Linked DNA regions of Homo sapiens: all the other regions are linked to region 1. The links come from fine-mapping of genetic effects on plasma protein levels. A gene starts in region 1. Each other region holds a variant in brackets. All regions are shown on one strand. Distances are from middle to middle. Region 1 holds the start of HS6ST2 (heparan sulfate 6-O-sulfotransferase 2). Region 2 has its middle 33 kb from the start of USP26. Region 3 overlaps HS6ST2 (heparan sulfate 6-O-sulfotransferase 2). Region 4 overlaps FRMD7 (FERM domain containing 7). Region 5 overlaps STK26 (serine/threonine kinase 26).

What was found. PIP is the chance, under the fine-mapping model, that this variant and not a neighbour inherited with it causes the effect. Protein levels are from antibody-based Olink assays in UK Biobank. Linkage for the fine-mapping came from a reference panel and not from the study's own genotypes, which makes the PIPs less certain.
Region 2: its variant is fine-mapped to the plasma level of the HS6ST2 protein (UK Biobank, PIP above 0.99).
Region 3: its variant is fine-mapped to the plasma level of the HS6ST2 protein (UK Biobank, PIP above 0.99).
Region 4: its variant is fine-mapped to the plasma level of the HS6ST2 protein (UK Biobank, PIP above 0.99).
Region 5: its variant is fine-mapped to the plasma level of the HS6ST2 protein (UK Biobank, PIP above 0.99).

The regions. Positions count from the first base shown.
Region 1 is chrX:132,955,999-132,961,136 of GRCh38, reverse strand. HS6ST2 (heparan sulfate 6-O-sulfotransferase 2) reads left to right here and starts at 2,508. Exons shown (of 5, transcript NM_001394073.1): 1 at 2,508-2,962; 2 at 3,811-4,329. The coding sequence starts at 2,535. It overlaps LOC124905219 (a long non-coding RNA gene), which reads right to left and starts at 3,702. Exons shown (of 2, transcript XR_007068337.1): 1 at 2,261-3,702. RefSeq lists an enhancer at 2,629-3,129.
Region 2 is chrX:133,127,355-133,132,492 of GRCh38, reverse strand. No RefSeq gene overlaps it. Among named protein-coding and RNA genes, the nearest start is that of USP26, 33 kb to the right of the region's middle. The variant T/C (reference allele first, on the strand shown) is at 2,220.
Region 3 is chrX:132,693,966-132,699,103 of GRCh38, reverse strand. All of the region lies in intron 3 of HS6ST2 (heparan sulfate 6-O-sulfotransferase 2), which reads left to right. Among named protein-coding and RNA genes, the nearest start is that of HS6ST2-AS1, 29 kb to the right of the region's middle. The variant GC/C (reference allele first, on the strand shown) is at 2,337.
Region 4 is chrX:132,082,629-132,085,719 of GRCh38, reverse strand. It overlaps FRMD7 (FERM domain containing 7), which reads left to right. Exons shown (of 12, transcript NM_194277.3): 7 at 1-139; 8 at 1,135-1,230. Among named protein-coding and RNA genes, the nearest start is that of FRMD7, 44 kb to the left of the region's middle. The variant A/G (reference allele first, on the strand shown) is at 2,788.
Region 5 is chrX:132,046,000-132,051,137 of GRCh38, reverse strand. The region is part of intron 2 of STK26 (serine/threonine kinase 26); the gene reads right to left. Among named protein-coding and RNA genes, the nearest start is that of STK26, 25 kb to the right of the region's middle. The variant A/C (reference allele first, on the strand shown) is at 2,873.

The sequences.
Region 1 (5,138 bases):
TTTTTTGCCTCCTACCCCCAGTCTTTCCCCAAAAGGCCAAAATCTAGAGCATTTGAGCCTTTGTCATTCACTGCCTGAGAGGAACTGGCTCCTGGGAGCAGAGACCAGCCGAGATTACAAGAAGCCTCTTCAACATGCAGCCAAGGCCCAGCCTTGGCCTCGGGAGAACATGGCTCTTGGGACACACGTAGGAAAAATTCCCTGCTTCTCAGCAAAAAGCCTCTTCAATCCTGGAGGGATCTTCTGAGGTTTGTGGGACTCCCTGCTCCCCACAAAGACTGTTTTCTTATACTTCCAGGAGCCCTGATATATGAATTCCTGTATGAGAGATTCATTTCTTTGTTCCTCACAGCATGAGGGGGTGGAGGAAGGGCTTCTAAATGCAAAAATCCTAGTGACATATTATATCTCAGAAACTGAACTTTACAGCCCCACCTTGTCCCTCTTGCTCTGCAACTACCAACCTCACTGGCCCTTTCTCTGAAGGTTGGACTGTGAGTGTGTGTGCAGGTGTGTGGACACCTTCCTTTTCACAACTCAAATGAGTAAAACCTGACTTTTCCCCCCGTACTGTTTACCACCTCCCCCTTCCCTCCACCCAAGGCACTTTCTTGTGTTCCAATGCCACTAATCCCTCTTACAGTAGAAACTCCGTAGTTTAGCTGCTGAGGGCTTGAATTTGTGACCCACCTGTTTCAGAAATATTTTCCTAGGGACCCAATGAATGCCATTACATACAAAGGTGGTGTAATGGCAGGGAATCTTTATGCGACACCATGAGGAGAGCCACCTATTGGGTAGGCTAAAGAGGTTGACTGCAGTGAGTGGCCAAGCAGAAGGCAGGGGCAGCTGGCAAGCAGAGCTCCGGGGCCACCCCCATAGCTTCCCACTACCCTGGCTCACACCCTAAGCTGCCCTCAGGGGGAGCAGGCCTAGGACTACCAGCCTGGGCACCAGGGGAGCTCTTGGGGAAGCTGAGAGGTCAACCTTGTAAGTTACTGCATCTGGCTTCTTCGCACAAGTTCATTGGGTTTTCAGAGTGTTCCTGGAACCTCAGGACAGGAGATGCCTGGAGTGCTAGAAATTCAGGATTCCCAAAAAATCCACTATCCCTTATGTCTGCAGCTGGACAAAGGGTCCCTCACGGTCCCCAGTAGGTTTGGGGGCACGTAGAAGTCTAGCCAGGGCTGGGAATTCTAGGGGGTGGTAAAGACAGGGTGCACAGCCACAGAATTGCCTGAGAACGGCCTGTTCCTTATTTGGCCTGTGACGCAGTTGGCACATTGAGCTTAGAGCAACAGGTAAACACAGCCTCACATTTGGAGTGGCCTAAAGGTTTCTACATTTCATCCCCACGGTGACTCAGTTGGTCAAAACAGGGGACATAATTGGTCCTATCTTACAGACAAGAAAACTGAGGCTCAGGAGGGGCAAGTGATTATCCCAGTGCTGCCCAGGGACAGATTTCCCAGGACTTCTGGACTATTCTTAGGCTTGCCGCTTCATGGCATAGATAGAACAGGAAACGGATGGAGCAGAGCTCAGCAAGGGAGATACTGGGAGAGCCTGTCTCCAGGAGGGACATGCCCCCACCCCAGGACTCAGCTCGTGGTCTGCATTCTCCCACTCAGTGGCCCCAGTGCCAACAGCACTGCTCAGAAACACTGCTGCCAACCGGTGCCCCTTCTGTAGCAGTGGGACTGGAGGGAGTTGCACACTCAGTCACGGAAACACCAGTGTCCTGATGTACAGCAAGCCCCTTTGATCAATCAGATGGGGACAGACTGACTCCTGAGTTCCCAGGGTCCTTTTCCTGAAGGAACATCCATTCTTTCCCTGTTAAACCCTGCATTCCTGGTCCAGCAGCAGAAAAGAGCCTTTCGGACACTGGAGCTTGAGGAAGATCTGTGCCTATTTATTAGAGAAGGTGGTGTTAGTATCAGGAAATAGGTGGATGGTGCTGGGTTTCTTGGGTTCAAACCCTGGGGCTCTGCTGTGTGACCTTGGGCACATCCCTACCCCTCTCTGGGCCTCAGTTTCCTCATGTGTCACATTACCTTGGATTAGACGGTCTCACTCTGATGGAGTTTTTAGTTATGTATCCATTCATTCAACAAACCTTTTATGAGTCAAGCCCTCCTGCAGGCACAGGGTTTGGTACACAGGATTCAGCAAGAAGACAGTCTGTGCTCTAAAAAAGGTCAGATTCTCATTCTGTAATGCTTTTTGGTCCTGCTGTCTTTTTATCATGCTGACTTACCTTTTCAGAAAATGCCCCCGCTTCCGCTGGAGAATGGAAATTGGCAAAGAGAGACGGAAAAGCTCCAATTTGCGCCTTTGCTATTTTAGGAGAGGTTGAAATTACGAGCCAAAGTGGAGTGATGCGCTAAGCGGAGTGACCTCCGTACTCCAAGAAAAGAGAAAACCCAGGTTCTCTGCTTGTGAAGTGGCTCGAGCTCTTAGGCGTGAGGCATTATTATATAAATTCAAGCTCGCTCGTGATCCTTAGTACCCTGAGTTGCCTGAAGGGGGGAATGGCACTGCCTGCGTGTGCAGTCCGGGAGTTCGAGCCGCCGCGGCAACCGGAGCGAGGAGCGCCCGTCCGCACCACCTGTCCCCGCCGGCATTCCAGAGTAGAGGCCGAATTGGCAGCGAGCCGGCCCGGGTCGGTCGCCGCCTCAGTTCGCGCGGGCCCTCCTAGGGGTGTGTCTCACGGATTCCACACCCGGCCGCTCCTGGACAAGCCCCGAAAGGCGTCTTCTTCCCTGGCGGGAGCCGCGTGCGCCCCGCTTTTCGCGCTGCTGTCCCGGGGCCGCCGCAGGCGGATGCACGTCCTCAGGCGACGCTGGGACCTGGGCTCCCTCTGCCGGGCCCTGCTCACTCGGGGCCTGGCCGCCCTGGGCCACTCGCTGAAGCACGTGCTCGGTGCGATCTTCTCCAAGATTTTCGGCCCCATGGCCAGGTACGTTCTAGGTGAAAGCGGGGTTCGCGCTCCCAGGCCAGGGCGCGAAGGTGCTGTACGGGGAGGGAAGGCAGCCGCGGGGGGTAGAGAAGGGCGTAAAGTTCCAGCTGGCCATTGGTGGCCCGGCTAGGGTCTCCGGAGGGGTGCGGCGCGCATTTGCCCACGCCGCGGCTCCGTCGCTACTGTTCCGCGGGCACCGGCAGCGCAGCGTCTCCGATAGCAAGTCGGGCTGCCGGCCGGCTCATTCCCCCAGGGTAACTCTGAGCCCCCGGCTCCGAGCTCCCTCGAGGCCGCCTACCGGGTGGGCAAGCGGGCGCGGGCGCCGGCAAAAGGAGGGCTTCGGGGCATGCGGGGAGAAACCCGGACAGAGGTGTGCGCTCCAAAGAGGATAGGGGCAGAAGAGCCCGGAGAGTCCGGCGGACGAAGCGGGATGGGGATGGGAGCGGGAGCCACCGAGAGTGGAGCGAGACACGCGGGGGCCCGGACTGGGGGCGTGAGTTGAGGAGTGGGGCGACTGGGCCCGGAGGGGTCCCACTGGGGCTAAACCCCGTGGAGGGGCTCCGGGGAGCTCCGGAGAGCTCTGGCGGGGGGAGGGGGCGAACGGCCCGCGGGAAGGAGTCGGGGTGGGGGTGTGTGTGTGCCGCAGAAGCCACAGCGCTGAGCCTGCCGGGAAGGAAGGAAGCGGGGAAGGGAGCCGCCGCCGCAGCCGCCGCCGCCGTGGAGTACTCGGTGCGGAGGGGAGGGGGAGAGGGGCGCAGCAGCGGCTCCAGGGGAAGGGGGCGGTGCGGGGGCACGACGAGCGCGGGCTGAGCTGCGGGATTGACGTAACGAGCTTGGGTTTCCCCCAGCGTCGGGAACATGGATGAGAAATCCAACAAGCTGCTGCTAGCTTTGGTGATGCTCTTCCTATTTGCCGTGATCGTCCTCCAATACGTGTGCCCCGGCACAGAATGCCAGCTCCTCCGCCTGCAGGCGTTCAGCTCCCCGGTGCCGGACCCGTACCGCTCGGAGGATGAGAGCTCCGCCAGGTTCGTGCCCCGCTACAATTTCACCCGCGGCGACCTCCTGCGCAAGGTAGACTTCGACATCAAGGGCGATGACCTGATCGTGTTCCTGCACATCCAGAAGACCGGGGGCACCACTTTCGGCCGCCACTTGGTGCGTAACATCCAGCTGGAGCAGCCGTGCGAGTGCCGCGTGGGTCAGAAGAAATGCACTTGCCACCGGCCGGGTAAGCGGGAAACCTGGCTCTTCTCCAGGTTCTCCACGGGCTGGAGCTGCGGGTTGCACGCCGACTGGACCGAGCTCACCAGCTGTGTGCCCTCCGTGGTGGACGGCAAGCGCGACGCCAGGCTGAGACCGTCCAGGTGAGTGCGCGCCGGTAGTCGAGCGGGACCCGGGCCTAGGCGGGCGGAGGGCTGGGAGGCGCGGCTGGCCCAAGCCGGGGACCTAGCGCGCACCCTGACGCCCGGGCGTTTGCACCCCGGCTGGGCAGGTGCTGGGCGCCCAGTAGCGCACGTTCGCCGCGCTGTGGCGGCCACAGAAAGGCTTTCCGCTCCGGCCCCGGACTGACCGTCTGTCTGTCCGCAGGGTGGCCTGCGTGATGGTTGGCAGAGCGTGCGGGGGAGGCGGCCGAGCGGCCGGAACGGGGCCGCTGGGACGGGGCATCGTACTCAGTCTCCGCACTGGAGAGCCCTAAAGAGCCGCGCTCTCCGTGCAGCGTCTCTGGATCCCTGCTTTCTTCTACTCTGCACCCGGGTTCCGAAGTCTCCTTTCAGCGCTCTCTTCCTCCTTTCGGCGCCCGCATTCTTCCCTCCCCCCGCTTTCCCCCCTATTTCGTCTATTTGCCTTGTTCTCCCTCTTTCTCTCTTGTGTCCTAGATGTTGTCTGCTCCTGTTTGCTCGCTGTTTCCTTCTTTCCATTCCCCTCTCTCGCTTTTATTCTTTTTCTCTCTTACCCTTTCTGTTTTTCTCTTCTTGCCGGACTTTTATCACCTCGCTCCTTCCCCGCTCTGGCTCTGGTCTTCCCGGGCGACTGGGTGTCCCTCTGTCGCTATTTTCCGACATCCAAGGAGAGCTCATGGTTCCCAGGCTTGCTTATCACTACTGGCTGCATGAGAGGCATCCGTGGCTCTTTGGGAGTGGCGGGGGGCACCCCGCGGACCGAAGGGCGGGCT
Region 2 (5,138 bases), 170 kb before region 1:
GATCAAGTGGCCTTATTATCTGATAAAGGTATGTACAGGTAACCAAAAGGATCTGTTTATCACGTGGTGTTTTGCTTTTGTTTGTTATTGTTCTAAACAAGAAGAACATGATATATCTGCTTAATCATTTATGGCATCCATTTCTATTTCTACTACCCCAGCTCAGCTATCTCTCGGGCTTCTCCTGGACCACTACAATAGTTTCCTAATTGATTTCCCTGTTACCAGTCTCATCCCCTCTGATTTTTTTCTTCCAATTAGCCAAGATAAATGTTTCTATACCACAACCCTGTTCTATACCACCTCCCTTCCTTAAATCCCTTCACCTAGTATCTCGAAGTTTCTGTGGGTCAGAAGTCTGGGCACAGTTTAGCAGGCCCTCTGCTAAAGGTCTTAAAAGAGACCTTCAAGGCAGTCAAGGTATCAGCTGGGGCTGTTGCCTTTTCTGAGGTTTGACAGAAAGGATCTGCTTCCAAGCTCATGTAGTTGTTGACAGGATTCAGTTCCTTGTAGGCTGCCAGATTGAGAGCCTCAGTCTGTTGTTGGTCATTGTTGGAGGCCAACTTTAGCTTCTTCTACGTGTGACAGCTTGCTTCTTCAAGGCCAGCAAGGAAGAAAGTGTCACTCTTAGCTAGATGGGCATTAGAGTCTTTGTTTTTGCTTGTTTGTTTATTTTGTTTTGTTTTGACACAGTCACATTCTGTCACCCAGGCTGGAGTACAGTGGTGCAATCTCAGCTCACTGCAGCCTCAACCTCCTGGGCTCAAGCAATCCTCCCACCTCAGCCTCCTGAGTAGCTGGGACTGCAGGTGTGCACCACCACGCCTGGCTACTTTTTGTATATTTTTTAGTCGAGACGGGGTTTTGCCATGTTGCCCAGGTCGGTCTCGAACTCCTGACCTCAGGCAATCCTCCTGCCTCAGCCTCCCAAGTAGCAGGGACTGCAGGCATATGCCAGCATGCCCAACTGGGCATTAGCACCTTATGTAATATAATCACATATATGTATTTTTTGTTACCTTTGCAGTTTCCTATTAGTTAGAAGTAGTCATAGCTCCTACCAACACTCAAGGGGAAGGAATCACACAAGGGTGTGAACACCAGGAGTAGGGATTATGAAGGCCAACCTGGAGTCCATCAGCCACAGTATTTCACCACCTAGACATAGAGCCACTATATTGCACAACTTCCTGGAGTTGTGCATTATGACAATCCTTTGCTATGTGTTGACTGGAAGAATAGATAAACCAGAGTTGGACCACCTTAGGCATAAAATTAGCTGAGATGTAACATTATAGAAAGAGTTTTAATGTGGGAATCCAGCATTTCCTCTGTCTGGGCCTTGGTTTCCTTATCTGTAAAATGAGTGACATAAACCAGCTGATCTCTAGATCAGCTTTCATCTTCAGAATTCTGAAATTCTACAGCATCTGTTTGTTTTCATCTTCATCCATCCCTATCTTCTTCATGACATAATAATAGCTAGCACTTACATAGCACTTACTTTGTGCTGGATATTTTTCTAAATGTTTTATATGTTTCAAATTCTCACAAAAACACTAGGGATGTAGGTTTTATTCTTTTCTGCATTATATGAATGAGGCAGTTGAGATTCAGATAGTTAAGTAATATCAGTCTTCCCCAAGGTGTATGCAGTAACCCCGATGCAGTACTATCTCTCTAATAGACACAAACAGAGGAAGGAGTGAAGGAAAGGAAACTAGTTTATGAGGGCTGACTGGTTATATTTAGGATTTTTTTTTCTTCAAGGTTCAAATTTGAGGGTTAGGCCCCATGAGATTCAGAAAAGGAAAACCAGACAGTTATTGCAGCTCTTTCTCAAACCTGGCATCTCCCCAGAGCATGGAAAGGGTATTAGTGGAACCAAAGCTCAGTACTTCCAGCAGTGGGAAGGAGAATACTGAAAAGCTGTAACGGGAAATTGAAAGACTCCCTCCTCCCTCTCCTGCCCCAGGCAATGACAGGCAGGTGCCCTCTCCCTTATGTCCTTTCTTCATCTGTCTTGGCTGAACAATGCCCCCTCCATGTTGGGAATTTCCAAGGAGAAAGACAAGTAGATAGGGGTCAGTCTGCTCTGGATGGTGCAAGGGAACTGGGTGAGAAAGGCAGTGAAGCAGAACATACCCAAGAGTGACAGTTTCTTGTTCATTAAATGATCAACTCCCCGACAGAACAAACTGAGTCAAAGTAAATCCTTA[T/C]TAGCCCTGAACTGGACTGGCCTAGTCCTAACACCTTGCTCTGCAAGTCATTCTTTTATTTCTCCACTAGGCATAATCCTATATCAAGGAGCAAGGTGCATTCTGGCTTTGTATTACTTTCCTATGAAGTGGTAGTTTCTGGTGCATGGAAAGGTATAAGGCTAAATCATGCACTGTGATCTCTCAACCCCTTTCTATCTAAATTAAATAGAAAGTCAGATGCATGGCAAGCCGCCTACTTTGTCCCACACTTGGAGACTACATTTTAGCTTTTATAGAATGGAATCAACAATTTAATGGAGAGAAATAAAAATGTATGTCCTTAATGACAACCTTGTAAAGAATGAAAACTCTGTCAACCTCCTTGACCCAGCCTGCAGACACAAAATGGGATGTGTGGGCTGAAGATGCATCCAGGCAACATCGTGGAGTGTGGGGTGGGTAGGGGGCAGGCTCTGAGGCTCCAGGGCCCCACCTCTATTTATTTAGCAATGGTACCTAGGAAAATTTGCCCTGGGAGACAAGGTAACTTGCTGCAGTGTTTCTGAACATGCTGCCAGCTAATAGTGCCTCCTGCATCAAAATAGCTTGCAGAAGTTCAAATTTAATGGGGGAAAATAAAATACAAAATCCTTCTGTTTGGATAAATCATTAGAAGGTTTTAATGACGGAGACTTCAGAAATTGCAGCTTAACATAATGTTTAAGTAATATAATGGTTAAGAGTGCAGACAGACTCTCAAGCTAGACTGTCTGTGTTCAAATCTCGGTGCTCCTGTTCACTATCTGTGCAACCGTGGGCAAGTCACTCAGCCTTTCTGTGTCTCAGTTTTCTCATCTCTGCAATGAAAATAATAGCATTTATACCTAGTAAGTAGTATTTACACCTAGTATTTATACCTAGAAAGTTGTTATGAGGATTAAATGAGTTAAATTTTGTGAAGTGCTTAGAATAGTGCTCAGCATGTAGTAAGTATATGTAAACAAAAAATAAATATTTGTTCACTTCCTGCTAGGTCTTATACAGATTTCCAGTTTTTGAGACAGGCTCTTGCTCTGTCTCCCAGGCTGGAGTGCGGTAGCACAGTCATGGCTCACTGCAGCCTCAACCTCCTAGGCTCAAGTGATCCTCCTGCCTCAGCTTCCCAAGTAGCACGGACCACAGGTGTATGCCACCATGCCCAGTTAATTAAAAAATTTGTAGAGACAGAGTCATACTATGTTGCTCAGGCTGGTACTGATCTCCTGGGCTCAAGCAATACTCCTGCCTCAGCCTCCCAAAGTGTTGGGATTACAGGCATGAGCCACTGCCTACAGCCAGATTTTTTTCTTGTTTCACGTAATTACCCTGGAAAGTACATACTATTATTCGCCATTTATTGATATGGAAACTGAGCTTCAACTAGGTTACACGGGTTCCCAAAGGTCATACCGGTTGTATGTTTGAGATCAAGATTCCAAATAGAATGTGCCTGATGTAAAAGTGAAGACTCCTTCCATCACACCTCAATAGCTTTCCATTTGTAGCTCAGTGGAATTTTGCTCCCCACTTTGTTGAAGGATGTGGACTTTGAACAAACTTCTCATATCAACCCCTCCAGCTGCCCTGGAGCAGTGGCTGCAAGGGCCTTCAGCTGTCATAGGACTCAGTGTAGGTAGCTTCTTGTTTTGTTACTTCTCACTTTCAGACTATTCCTCTGGACAGTTATAAGTTCTCATAGTAGGTACACAGAAATGTATTGAATCCATATCCTCTGTTATCTCACAAAATAACTTGTTTAATTCTTCTCCAACAAACCATATTGTTGTTCACAAGCAGGTTACATTTAATCTCTGGCTCATTGTAGCCCTTTACAAATTTTTCTAACTAGCCTGATTTTGAGCAGACTGTATGATTCCAGCTGCTGCTCCTCCCTTCCAACTTTTACTGTAGATCTGTAAATCCTTACTTCCCTTAGACATCAGCCATCAGGACCCCTACCCTGGTTCTTGTACCTTAGAGGACCGCCTCTGGCCCCATCAGGCAAAGGAGTTGGAGTTGGACATAACTGAATTTGAAGGTCCACTTATTTATTTATTTATGAGACAGGGTCTCACTGTGTTGCCCAGGCAAGAGTGCAGTGGTGTGATCATAGCTCACTGCAGCCTTGAGCTCCCAAGCTTAAGCAATCCTCTGGCCACAGCCTCCTGAGTAGCTGGGACCACAGGCACACACCACCACACCCGGCCTCCACCTGTTTATTAGGTGTGATAAGTTGGGCAAGTTAATCTAATTTTCTGGACCCCAATTTCCTCATCTAGAGAATGGAGACAATAAAATACACCTCAAAATGCTGTGAAAATTAAATAAGGTGATTAATAATATAAAATATTTATAATGGTGCCTCGCACATAGACACTAGAAAATTTGGGCTCTTTTTTGCAGAATAAATTTCTAGAATCACAGACTATACATTTTAACAAACAGCACCACAATTTCTCCCTTGAACTCCTTAAAATCCTCAGATAGATATTGCCTGGTTCCATTCCCCGTGATTGATCTATACTGACATAGTTTGCAAACTAAGAGCACAACATCTTGTGCACTTAATATATTCTAATCTGGTTCATCTACCTGATCTGATTAAAAATCCAATATATGGAGAAAATGAGAAGTAAAGCAGCAAAGGGGAAAGTAAAAAGCAAATTTCAGGATTGTGGTGGAATATGTTACTAAAGCTGGTTGCAGCATGAACTCCCATCCCACATGCTCTTTTGCAATGTGCTTTTGCCATTCCTCCCACTGAGAGGTAAATTTGGACTGGCCCTGTGACCTGTTTTGACCAGCAGAATGTGGTGGAAGTGACAGTGTATTTTCCAAGGTTGAACCTTGAGTGATCTTCAGTTTCTGCCTTTCTGTTTGGAATGCTTCTTCTTGGAG
Region 3 (5,138 bases), 260 kb after region 1:
TACAATCATAGGTCAATTGGCTCTGGGTCATTCTGGGGCTGAGGGAAAACAGGTAGTGTCCTTCAATAGATTTGGAGAAACTGGAGGGGGCCTCTTAACTTGGTGATTTTCCAGTAATGTGATTGAAAATGTACTACTACATTAATTAATTCAGTCATTACAGATACACTTATTGAGCACCTACCATAATTCAGCACGATTCTTAATGCTAGAGATATGACAATTGAATAAGACAAATATAGTTCCTTCTCTCAGGGAGCTTATATTCTGGTGGCAGATATAGATAATTTGGAGGAAGCAAGTCAACAAAATGTGTCCATATTGTGATGAATGTTATGAAAGAATTAAGTGGAGTGCTAGATAGGGGATATGTAGCCTTTGGAATAACCTCATTGTGGGGCAAACTTATCCTTTGTGGATGGATTTGATTTTTGGAAACATCAAAAATGATATGGGGCCAGGTCTTATAAATATATAATGGAAGATCAAATTGATTGATAAAAGTTTTGCCCCCAAATGAGGGTATATATGTAATTACTGTAATATTTTTGAGTGTCAGTAAAAATATATACTACACTAACTAGTGATAAGCACGCCCATGTTTTTAAAGGCAGTGAAAGGGCTCCAGCAATGGGTGTTATCCTTTGGCAAGCATTTAGGCATCTATAGCTACCAACAGCACTGTCTCCAGTTCTCTGCCTCTCCTCAATTCTGGTCAACCCTTGTCATCATTGGCAAATGTACTTTAGCTGTTATATTGGTACATAAAATAAACATTCAGAGACATTCCAAACTATGTAGTACAGCAGTAACATGTGAAATTTGATTCTGTCACAATTATAATTTAGTTCTCTCATTTCATTAGTCCAAATAAAGTGGAGTTTCATTTATGCTATTTTGTATCAAATAAATCTGTAGAATGCTAATACACCACTTCGATGAGATACAATCAATTTGAGTCTAGGAAAGGCAAGAATGTTATAAGCTAGAATGTCAAGATGAAGATGAACAGACAAAGGAAGCCATGATAGGAGAATTGAGGACCCCTTGTGTGCTCCTTCTTGTACTAACTTAAGTGATATCTACCATGTCCGTTTAGTGATCGTTCTAGACATGTCCCCATTAAAGGATATCTAATAGAGATGGTTTTGTAAAATGAGAAGAAGCCAATGATAGCCATTTAATTACATCTTTAGTGTGACGTTAGCTCCCTGTCTTGAGAAGCATTGATATTCTCCATGGGTGTTTACTTGAGCAACTACTCTGCCAGGCACTGGGAGTACAGAGGTGAATTAGAGAGAGATCCTGTCTTTATGGAGCTCACATTGAATTTGGGAGATAGAACTAACCGTTGTGGTAGAATATGGTTCATACTAATATGTATAAACGTAGATACTTGGTACTTCAAGGAGTCTGCTCTAGGTTGAGTCGTTGGGTCAGAAACTACTAAGGGAACTATTCTATGGTTTGCTAAAGCTAGTGATGGGGCAGGTATGTTCATTTCTTCACCTCATATAAATATCTTTGGACTCTTGGCATGATTCACATGCATACACTTTCAATCTATCTGCCAGTTTTAAAGGCAGGTATAATGGTGAGGTCTAGTTTCAAAATAAGTAGCTTTTATAGGTAATATTCTGTGGTTTCTTCTTGAATGTAGAACCAGACCGATTCAGAATAACTCTCATGTGACCTGTTGTGAAGAGCCGGCCTTAATTTTTCTTTCTCTTTTTTTCTTTTTGCAACACCAGCTCCATTTCTAGTAGCAAATCTGAGCCAAAAGCACAGATTCATTGACTGTTTGCATAAGACACTAAATAGACACTGAACAGAGGATTAATGTAGCCCTGTCTTCTGGGAGCTTATAGTCTAAAACAGACAACAAACTGGAAAGAATATCCAACACACCTGATATGCTCATTTCCCTTCTCATATAAATCCAAAGAAAACAGAAAGTGGCAAGTCACATTCTACAGGATTGGGAAAATCCCCTAGAGAGTATTTTCTTTTTGTGACTTTTCAAGTTAAAAGGTATTTTGTATATGACATGTAATAGATTACAGTGTTATTTGATGAAAATGCAAGCAATGTTCTTCCTTTCTTTTTTACTATCAACAAGTTACATTGGAAGGTGTGGATCAAATTAAAAGTGAATTCTTGATTTGCCATGGGGAAATATGTGCAGTATTTTAAATACTCTAAGGTAAGGGTCAACTTGTGGGAAGAAGAGGTATCATAAAAATTAATTTAAGAAACTAGCCTTGAGATATTTCCTAATAATCCCACAGGGAAAGCAACATCTGTGTCATAATAAAGGCGCTTAGTGTGACCTTTTT[GC/C]AAAAGGGAATATTACCGAAACATGACCAAAGTTTGGAGCTGAGGTACTGCAGTAAAATAATGGGAGTCTACTAAATATTTATAAGGATGTATTCATTTGTAAGAAAGTAGTGAAACAGTAGAACATCTGCCAAACCAAGGTTAATTTCCCAAAGCTCATGTGTTTGTGAGAGACACAGAGACAGGCACAGGAATAGAAATGCAGAGATAAAGAGACACAGAGAGAGAAAGTAGCAAGAGGCTGAGCCAGAGGTGGACAGAGACCAAGAACTGAAAATCAGCCACCCTATTGATTACCTTCCAACTCTGTCATGAAATTTACTGAGAGACCTTGGTCAGGTCACTGCTCTCTGGGCCTTGGTTTCTTCATGTGTAAGATGAAGGGATGGACTAGAATATGACTCTATAGAACTTACCAACTCCCTGGTTCTACTCTTAGCTGCAAGGTAAATGAAAAGGCAGGCAGGTGGGTAGGTAAAGATATACACGGGCAGGCATGGAGACAGACAGACTGGCCACATACATGCATACACAAGTTTCACAAAAATAGAACAAAGCCCAAATCATGGTAGACCAGTGAACTGTGAATCACAGAGAGCAGCAGCCAGATCCACAAAATCGTCTCATCGCTTTTGATACTGCCATGGTGAAAACTTGGCAGATTTCCTTTTACCTAGCACTTGCCCAGCTTCCTGGAGGCCAGCATTCAGACCTTTTCTGACTGGCTTGGCCGACCCTTTCCTCCACCGACTCAGAGGATTAGTTATGTCAGGATCTGCAAATGACCTCTGATGCCCAAATGGAAGAACTCAGCCTACTCTTCTAACTCTTAACACTTGAGGATGAAAAAACTCACATAACCTACCATGCATATTCTTGTCCAACTTTCTGTCTGGATATCTGTCTGGTTGTAATGTTCTATGGATAATTTTAAGCACGCTGTGTTCACCAGGCTTTCAAAGGTAACCACTTTTAAACTTTTGTGAGTCTTGTTTGCAGGGGCATGGAAATGAAGAGAATAATTAGTACTTGTCGAGCTCCCAGCCAGCGAATGACTTTAGTAAGGTGCTAACAATGCACTCAAGTGAGTGCAGCAAAATGATGAGGACTTACAGATGGATTTTAGTATCTGGTTTATTTCACTTCCATTGGTTTTTGCAAGATGTAATATAGTGTGATTTTTCTTACTTTGACTGCTTATAATTTATCAGCCTTCCCCAAAATAATACCCCCATAGTTTAATCTGAGGGCACATGAGCTGATAGTAGGTACCCCTTTGGGAAAATCTGATTAAGCATTTGTTTCTCAAGAAACTCCTTTGGTATCTGGGACACCATTTTGAATACATCTAGAGCTTCACATTTTGATGCTAGTACATTTTATAAGAATCTATGAAAAGCAACTCCATCAAAATTGTGTTTCCTTAGAGAAAGATAGTGCATTAGGATAACAATCTGTATTGCACCCATTACCATAGTACTTTCTTAAGAGGTTTTTGCCATCACTGGAAGCCTTACTCTTCCAGGACAAGTGAGCCCTGAGAACACAGGCTAGGGTGGGCATGATGTGTGAGGATGAAGAAGCCAGGCTGGCTGCAGTCAAGCTTGCTCTTATACCAAGTGGCGGATGGGTTTGGTTGAGTCATTGTAGCTAGCGAGAGAGGATGCTGAAAGACACAAGAGAGGCTTGGCTTCCACATATATCTCCAGCGCCACCTCGTCCCTGGGGTCCAGACTCCTGCAACTCTCACACCACTCCTGTCTCTACTGGGAGGTTTAGTTGGGATCTCAAACTTCACCTGCCCCCAGACAAACTCCTGACATTTCCCCAGAACGTGGTCCTCTCCCAATCTTCCCCGCCTCAGTGAGTGGCATCTCTGTCCTTACCAGTTGCTCAGGGGAAAATCTTCAAGGTATCTTTTGCATATCTTTTTCTCCCCCAGGCCATGTCTAATCCACTAGCAAATTCTGTCTACTTCACCTGCATAATATATCTGGAATTTGACCGCCTCTCGCCACCATCAGCTCTGTCATCCTAGTCCAAGCCGCCATCATTTCTTACATGGGCTTCTGTAAAAGCCTACTAGCTGGCTCCCCTGCTTCCTTTATTGGACCCCTACAGTCTTGTCTAACCACAGTGATAACCCTTTTAAAATGTTAATTGAGATGTTGTCATTCCTCTTTTCCCAGCCCAGCAGTGGCTCTCCATCTCCTTCAACAACCAACCCTGCAAGGTTCCTGCAAGCTCCATCTCTGACTTTATATTTTATTACCCTGCCTCAGGCCCATTTTTCTCTAATCACACTGGTCTCCTTGCTTTACCTTAAATATACCAGGCCTCTTGCTGCCTCAGGGCCTTTGTATTTGCTCCTCTTTCTACCTGGAATGCTCTTCCCCTAGATATCTGCAGGGCTGGGTCCTTATGTTCATTCCAGTCTTTCTTGAAATGTCATAGGAATAGGATTGCCAAGGAGTCCAATTCTTAAAAAGAGGTCACTGGTCTTGGCCAGCAGGAAGTCACTGATGACTTTTTAGAGGGCAGCTGCAGTCAAGTGGTAGAAGAGGAGCCACATTGTTTTTGAATCATCTGTATCCCTTACCAGGCTGTGCACCGCTCGAGTCTGGTGCTGTTGTCTCATTCATTTTTGTCTGTCTAGTACCCTCCACAGTGCCTGGCACCAGTAGGCACTCAGTGTTTGTGGGATGAGGGCACGAGTCTTATTTTCAAACAATTGGTTATGTTAAAACACGTTAAATTGCTGAATGTTTGTGATTGCTTTCTCAGTTTTTCTCAGGGAATAT
Region 4 (3,091 bases), 870 kb after region 1:
CCCAGCTGAATCTGACATTCTGCTACTGGACATAGCAAGGAAGCTGGATATGTATGGCATCAGGCCTCACCCCGCCAGTGATGGTGAAGGGATGCAGATTCACCTGGCTGTTGCTCACATGGGAGTACTGGTGTTACGGGTAAAATCTCTTTCCTTTCAAGCCCTTCAGCTTTAGTGAGGGGTGGTTATCTTGGCTCAAACTTGGGTGTCCTTTCCCAAGGTGATCTCACCCCTCAGTATTATCACCAGCCAGAAAGGGAAATGGTCAATCATATTTACTTGTAGTTGCATGAAAAGTATACATGACAAACTAATAAACATAGTTAACTGCAGGGAATGGATAGATGGGGACAGAAATAGGGGTGACAGTGGTGGGAGTGAGACTTCTTTCTATATATATCTTTTTGTATACCTCTGATTTTCAGACCACGCGAATAGATTACCTGTTGAACAAACAACAAATAAGCAAAAAAGCAAAGCTGGTTGGACCGACCAGGAAAGCCAAGGGAGTTTAGAGGAGTTGGAAATGGGTGTAGGCTGCAGTAATTAAACAGAATAGCCTAGAGAAGGGTCTGTCAGAGCTGGCAAGAAGGCTTGACTATGTGGAAGGCATTGTGGGCAAGGAAAATGAGGAGACTGCAGGAGAGAGGTATAGAGTTAGATGAAAGGGTGTTTTGGAATTAGTGGGAACAAAGGTTATATATTCAATATAGATGAGGCAGCAAGATATGGCCATGATGTGATGTGGGCAGTGAGGAGCTATTGAAGGTGTTTGAGCTATTGGGGTGTCAGGAGAAAGAGGACATTGTTTTTAGCAGATGAATCGGGAAACATGGGAAAGGGGCGAGATTAGAAAAGCTATTGTAGTAATCCTTTCCTCTTGTGATCTCCCTGTGCTGGCCAGAAAACTTCCCTAGGCATACCCCTTCTTGCTTGCATTCCAGAGCATCCTTGTATCCCACCTGAAATGCCTTCTTTGACCACAGCTCCTACCCAGTGCAGCAGGATCAATCTGTGCAAGAGATGGGTCAAGGGCGGTCCCTCTCATTAAGTGCATTTTCTATCAGGTTTGCACTGTCTTACAAGCCAACTCTTGTTAATACATTCTGAAATCTGCCACATTTTTCATTGTAGGGAAATACAAAGATCAATACTTTTAACTGGGCTAAAATCCGCAAGTTGAGTTTTAAGAGAAAGCATTTTCTCATCAAACTTCATGCCAATATCTTGGTAAGTAGCTTTCTAATAAATTCGTTTACTTTCTGTTCACTGGGAATTTTTTTGGTTGTTTCTGCAAATCGTTTGAATGTAAATTGTAAAAGCCGGCTGGCCCTGAGTGATGGTGTGTCTTTTCTTTTGCCTTTGAAGAAATCAACCAGAGTTTTAATCATTTTTTACTAAAGGCAAAACACTAAGAAATCTGATTGGCAGTTTAGAGTTAACAAAGTAATAGGAAAATGGGGCAGCTCGGCTGAAAGGCAAGTCTCCCTGGAAACTGCTTTTTAGGGATTTGATAAGTCAAATGGGAGTGACCAGATCTAGGACTAAGAATACATTCATATGATGTTATCTGTTCCATTTTATAAAGTATCTTCAATTACTTTCCTTAAGCAAAAATTATTGAACACCTAGTATATGCCAAAAACAAGCAGGATGTGGGAGTCAGGTATACACGTAAGCAAAATAAACAGTTTTTGGGCAAGGTTGCATAGTAAAGGGTGAGACAAAGGTGCTAGAAATGATCTTCTTTTTTTATTCTAGAGATAGGGTCACACTGTTGCCCACACTGAAGTGGAGTGGTGACATGTAGCTCAGAGCAGCCTCAACGTCCTGGGCTCAAGTGATCCTACCGCCTCAGCCTTTTGAGTAGCTAGGACTACAGGCATGTGCCACCACACTTCGCTAATTTTTAAAACATATTTTGTAGAGACAAGGTCTCACTATGTTGCCCAGGCTGGTCTCAAACTCCTGGCCTCAAATGATCCTCTTACTCTGGCCTCCCAAAGTGCTGACGTTACCAGGCATGAGCCACTTAGTCTAGAAAGGAATTTTCTTATGACCATAAAGAAAATAAAAAGTGTGTATCAACTAATTTTTGACCTACTGAAGATCCAGCAGTTTGGATTTTATTCTCTGCATCTTGACCTTATAGAAAAGTGTTCATTGAGCAGTTCAAGAAACTGGACTTAGTGTGAAGCTCATGGAGAGCCCCAGAGGCTACATGCAGGAACCTGGAAAGGAATGAGAGAAGTGGGGTCAGTGCAGTGGGTTGATGGGGCTGCTGAAAACAGGGCTGCAAACATGCCATGTGAGGGGTACATATAGTGTCAGGAGATGGGGAAAACTCGAACTTTAGGTCTGGAAAGCCAAGATTAGAATATGCTAGATGAGCAATATAGAGCATTGTACAAGACAACCTATAGAGGAAAAAGTGTTTCTAACTGTTACACTAAAAAGACTCATGGACTGAGTGTAGTGGCTTGCGTTCATAATCCCAGTGCTTTAAGAGGTTGAGGTGGAAGGATCACTTGAGTTCAGGAGTTTGAGACCAACCTGGGCAACATAGCAAGATCCCATCTCAACAAAAAAAACTACAAAGAAATTAAGCGGGTATGGTGGCACATGCCTGTAGTTCTAGCTATTCAGGAGGCTGAGTCAGGAAGACTGCTTGAGCCCAGGAGTTTGAGGTTATAGTGAGTGATGATCATGCCACTGCACTTCAGCCTGGGCAACAGAGTGACACCTTGTCTCAAGAAAACAACAGACTTATGTACATGTAATCATCTT[A/G]TAAACCCTTCCATCTATAAGGAAATCTTCTCCTCCCTCCTGTTTCCTGTTGGTCATTTATAACTTCTCACCTTGAAAAGATGCCCTTTGACATGATTTTAATCTAATTTACTTCATAAAAATGTTTCTGGCAGAGAAGAGTGAGTAAAAAAGGTATTTAAGGTGAGGGGAGTGTGCAAAGCAATATTTGCTTCTTAGAGAAGGCTCTGTTTGTGAGCAGTGGCCCTGTCTATTCCTCGCAAGGTTGCCAATCATTAGGTTTCAGCAGGTGTGAAACCTACAGGGAGCCAAGTGGAAAATCAGA
Region 5 (5,138 bases), 910 kb after region 1:
AGATAGAAGAAGCCTTCTTGGATACTTAAACCACAGAAACAGACAGCTGAAAGAACTCTTACAAGTTCTCTAGGTGCTCTCCAATCCTGGCTATAAATTAGAACTACCTATATCACTTTTAAAATGTGGATACCTAGGCTTTACCCCAAAACTACTGATTCAGCCTACTGAGACTGGGGCCTTGCAACCAATACTTCTGAAAAAGCACCCCAAATGATTCCTGTGTAGTCATTTGAACACTAGTCTCGACATCAGCACTTGGGAACCACTAAGCAGATGGATGTGAAATTTGTATCCTTGATTACAGGGAACCCATTATCCTTATTTTTCCCAGGCAAGCATATGGGTCTCATCTAATTCTGTACATTAAAAGTGGACAAGTTGGAGATTAAAGTAAAACTAAGAGGACTTTGGCATTTACTATACATACCTATATTTTTAAAAATGAAGTCTGCAATACTTCTTCTAAGGATATGTCTCTAAAATTAGCACTGGTGACCCTTGAACAACATGGGTTTTAACTGTATAGGTTCACTTACACACGAATTTATTTTCAACCAAACACAGATCAAAGATACAATATTTCCAGAATGTGAAACCCATGTATAGGGAAGGCTGACTTTTCATATATGTGGGTTCCGCAGGGTCGACTGCATGACTTGAGTATGCACCAATTTTGGTATACACAGCAGAAGAAGGTATCCTGGAATCCCGAGGGATGACTCAAGATTAGAAACATAATGTTTGTCAAAACACAAGCAACATATCCCGTACACTTTGTATACATATTCTTAAACATTGTTTATACCCAATATAGTCTATGTATTGTCGATAGGGCCTATAATAGGTTAAGATGTGACTGATGACAGAGTTTTGAGGATAACAGCCAACATTGATGAAGGATAAAATTTTAGATCTAGTTAGTAGAAAATGGGTCAACTTGTGGAGGGGGGCATTAGGAATTGGTGGCCAGGAGAAACAAGAACATTGAAGACGGATTTAGAATTAGTCTTGGAGTTCTCGCAGAATGGGGACCTAGAGAGCAAAATGTGGGAAAGAACCAAGGTAAAGAATCTAGTTCTTTGAATTTGAACTACCTAACTAAGACCCCCAGTAAGACTCTGGGACTGAGAGTGAAAACATAATAGATGTAAGGAAGAGGAGGCAGATTTCTCACAGGATTTGACCTGGAAGGATTCAACTCACGTATCCTAAAAGAATCTTCCAGAACTAAGAACCAAGCTGAGTAAGGTTGAATTGTTTTGCACCTGCCTTCCTACATTAATAAAGCCCATACTATGAATGCTGTAGCTATAAAATAACTTTTTGCACTTTACAAAGACTGGCCTGTATATAGGCCTATCAGTGACTCATTGATGAGGAGGAGTGTTACAGGAAATAATGAGCAAATAATGTGCTAATGATATCAAGGCTTAAAAGAAGATTTCTTACTTCCTTGAAGTCCTCAAGTGGGAACACCAGGAGTGACTTGCAGTGAATACAAAGTGCCCTGACAATCACAGAGAGCAACTAAAAACTTCAGCCTAACAATGTACTAAACTAGAGATATTTAGCTACCTGTTTAAATTGATCAAATCAGTTCTCCCAGGCTAGAGACGAAATGTTTTTCTGGATTACTTCCATGTATATACAGTTTCCTGTCATCTAAGAAGCAGAATGCATATAAATAAAAGTCATTCTCTAGTTGGTTTATGAGCCTCAAATTAAATTACTGTTCTATTATGATTGCCTGTGTTAAGATTTTTCACTTGCCCTTATGAACATTGCCTAAAATGTTTGCTGAATGTTTCCTAATCAAGATATCATTTTTTTAAAAAAAAGGAGATTTAGGCCAGGTGCAGTTGGCTCATGCCTATAATCCCAGCACTTTGGGAGGCTGAGACAGGTGGATCATTTGAGCTCAGCTGAGTCCAAGACAAGCCTGGGCAACAGGGTGAAACCCTATCTCTACTAAAAAAGAAATACAAAAAATTAGCCAGGCATGGTGGCACGTGCCTGTAGTCCCAGCTACTCAGCACACTGAGGTGGGAGGACCACCTGAGCCTAGAAGGGCGAGGCTACAGTGAGCCATGATCACACCACTGCACTCCAGCCTGGGCAACACAGTGAGAGCCTTTCTCAAAACAAAACAAAACAAACAAACAAACAAAAAACAGAATTTTAATGTCAACAGCCGTATAACTCTTACCAGTGCTGAGTTCGAGAAAACAGGACACTATCTTTTTTAAGTGCCAGATATAATCCATATACAATTGGCTGCTCTCTCAATCACGGGCTTTTAGAAATGGAAGGAAATGTATATAGGTCATTCAATCCAACTCTTTATCATCACCATCAGCAACAAGCATTTATTGTATACCCGTTTTGTCCTAGGCTAGGATCACTAAATGGAAGCTATGTAATTTAAGGCCATTTATGTTAAAATGGTAAGTCTTAGAGAAATTAAGAAGAGATACAGACTCTTGAAATTAAAAGAATTAGATAATCTTTGAGATGAACAGGAACTTAGCAAACTTGTCCAAAATATATTTTTACAGGGAGGAAACTATACCCTGGAGAGGTTACAAATTGTTCAAAGATAAAAGGTAGTTAACTAGTGGCAAAGCTTAAATCTGAACGCAGATCTCCTGACTGTTATGTCTAAGGTTCCTTCACTACAGCTAGGATTTATTTGTAATTTAAACTATAACCCCTTTTGCTATAAAAGCAAAATTATTTTCCATCGTAAAGAGATCACACAATTGTCTAATGTCTACTCTGTACTATCCCAATGCTTAAAGAATTTGAAAAATGTAAACTTAAAAGAATTGAAAAAATTTAAAATAGGACTTTTCTATATTTAAACTGATAT[A/C]ATTTTTATTAATTTTTTAAACTGACAAAATTGTATGTATTTATCATATACAATAAGATGTTTTGAAATATACAGTATATACATCATGAAATGACTAAATCTAGCTAATTAACATGCATTACATGCTATATTTCTTATCTTTGTGGTGAGAACACTTAACATCCACTCTGTTAGTATTTTTCAAGAATACAATGTATTATTATTAATTATATTACCATGTTGTGTAGTATATCTTCTGAACCTATTCCTCCTAACTAAAATTTTGTATCCTTTTACCAATCATTTGCAACAACATGGATGATCCTGCAAGACAGTATGCTAAGTGAAGAAAGCTAGGCACAGAAAGACAAATACTGCATTATCTCACTCACATGTGGAATATAAAAAATTGACCTCATAGAACTAGAGTAGAATGGTAACCAGACTGTGGTGGTTGGGGTTTGGTGGGAAAGATGTTGGTGAAAATGATGCAATTTTTTAATAATTGTTGAACCACTATGCAATTGATTGGCCCTCATATGTATGCACAACTACCAAATATTTCATATTACAATTTTAAAGAAAAATGATTCATAAGTAATCTTGACTTTCTGGCATTTCTCAGACTATTTTTTTTTCCATGTCAATAACTAGGCTGGAATGGGCTAGCCTCTAGAGTGTAGGAGATAAAGTAGTGATGCCATTCCATATCATGATTCCCATAGGATCCAATGTCAAGAATCCAACAGCTCCAATTCCAGCTTTATCAGTGATTTGTTGTATACTTCAGTAACCCTTAATACTAAGGTTTCCAGTTCTGTTCATTTAAAACCCCCCACAAATTGATGAAATTGTCCAGGAATAAAAAACAACATTTAGCATCAATTGTTAATTTTGTGCTAGGTTTATGCAGGCCTAGAATTGTTCAAATGACCATGCATGCTCAGATTACTTTAATAATCAGAAGGATAAAATAAACTCCCCACAAAATTTTCTCAACCTTTGAAAAATGTGATGTTAGCAGAGTAATTTTTTACTTTGCACAACTTCAGGTTCATACTACAAGTTATCAGATAAAATTTTATGGAATTCTTTAGAGATCCCTGTGATTTATATTTCTGAAGTGAAATACTTAGCTCCACTGTATTTTGCATATGACAGAATAAGAACTAAGATAAAAATTAAGTATGTCTGTATATGTTTCAAATTAAACATGAAGAATTTGGCTTCAGGTTAAATTTCTTTATGTGGACAGTCATTTAAATTTGTATTTCCATATTTATAAGGGCTCAAAATATTTTAACTAAGTGTACAATGAAAATGTTATTAGCTTACCTATTTTTATGGTATACTTACATTTTTACATCTTTCTCAAAGTTTATTATAACTTGCCTTTGCAACATAAAGTAGCAGTCAAATTCCCAGATTTTACATGCATGAAATGAGATAAATGAAATGTAGTAGGGATATGTCATTACATCAACCCTGGGCTTCCTTGTGGTCATCAGACAGCATTTTATCAACTCACAGTTGACTCCTTATCTTTACCCACCTACTTAAACGGCAGTTTTGAGACGAATGAGGCAACAGCACTCCAACCCTGGTCTCAATGGTGAAGCATAAAGTCAAAGGTCTCACACAGTATTATTTCATACTATTAAGGCAACTGTTTAAACTTTCAGCAATTTTGTGCATAGCAGCAAGAAAAATGTGTTCATAAGGCAGAAATAAAATTAATTGTATAGGTACTTTTTCATCTTCTCTTTATTTTATTATTCTTATTTTTAAATGCATCTCATTAGCAAAAATACTTAGAATGAGATATTTTAGTAAAGGATAACTTCATTAAAATTATTACAAAAGATTTTGACATAGCGTATGAATAACATAGCAGTTTGAGGAGTTTCTCCTGACTAATAATTTTGAGTCTAATTCATCTTTAAGAACAAAAGAATAATTGATAATATTCCTTCATCTTAATTCCTCCTACTCACGAGAGGATAGGAAAAGAGCTTCCTCTGCCTGCTAACTTGCATTCCTCTTTTTACCCCAGCTCAGATCAGAGGAAAAGAACAAGAAAGCAAGCAGGATACATTCTGGGATGTGAAGAATGCTGTTCTTTACATGTTTGTAAGACAGTTCATTTTACAATGGAGTAAAGAAGAATGAGACATTTCTTTGATTCTATTGTCACTTAACCACATATCACATTTTTCCAAAGAAAAATGAAATATGGAAAGAACGAGAATAAATTTAATAACTTTCCTTATCTTAAAAATCCTCAAGC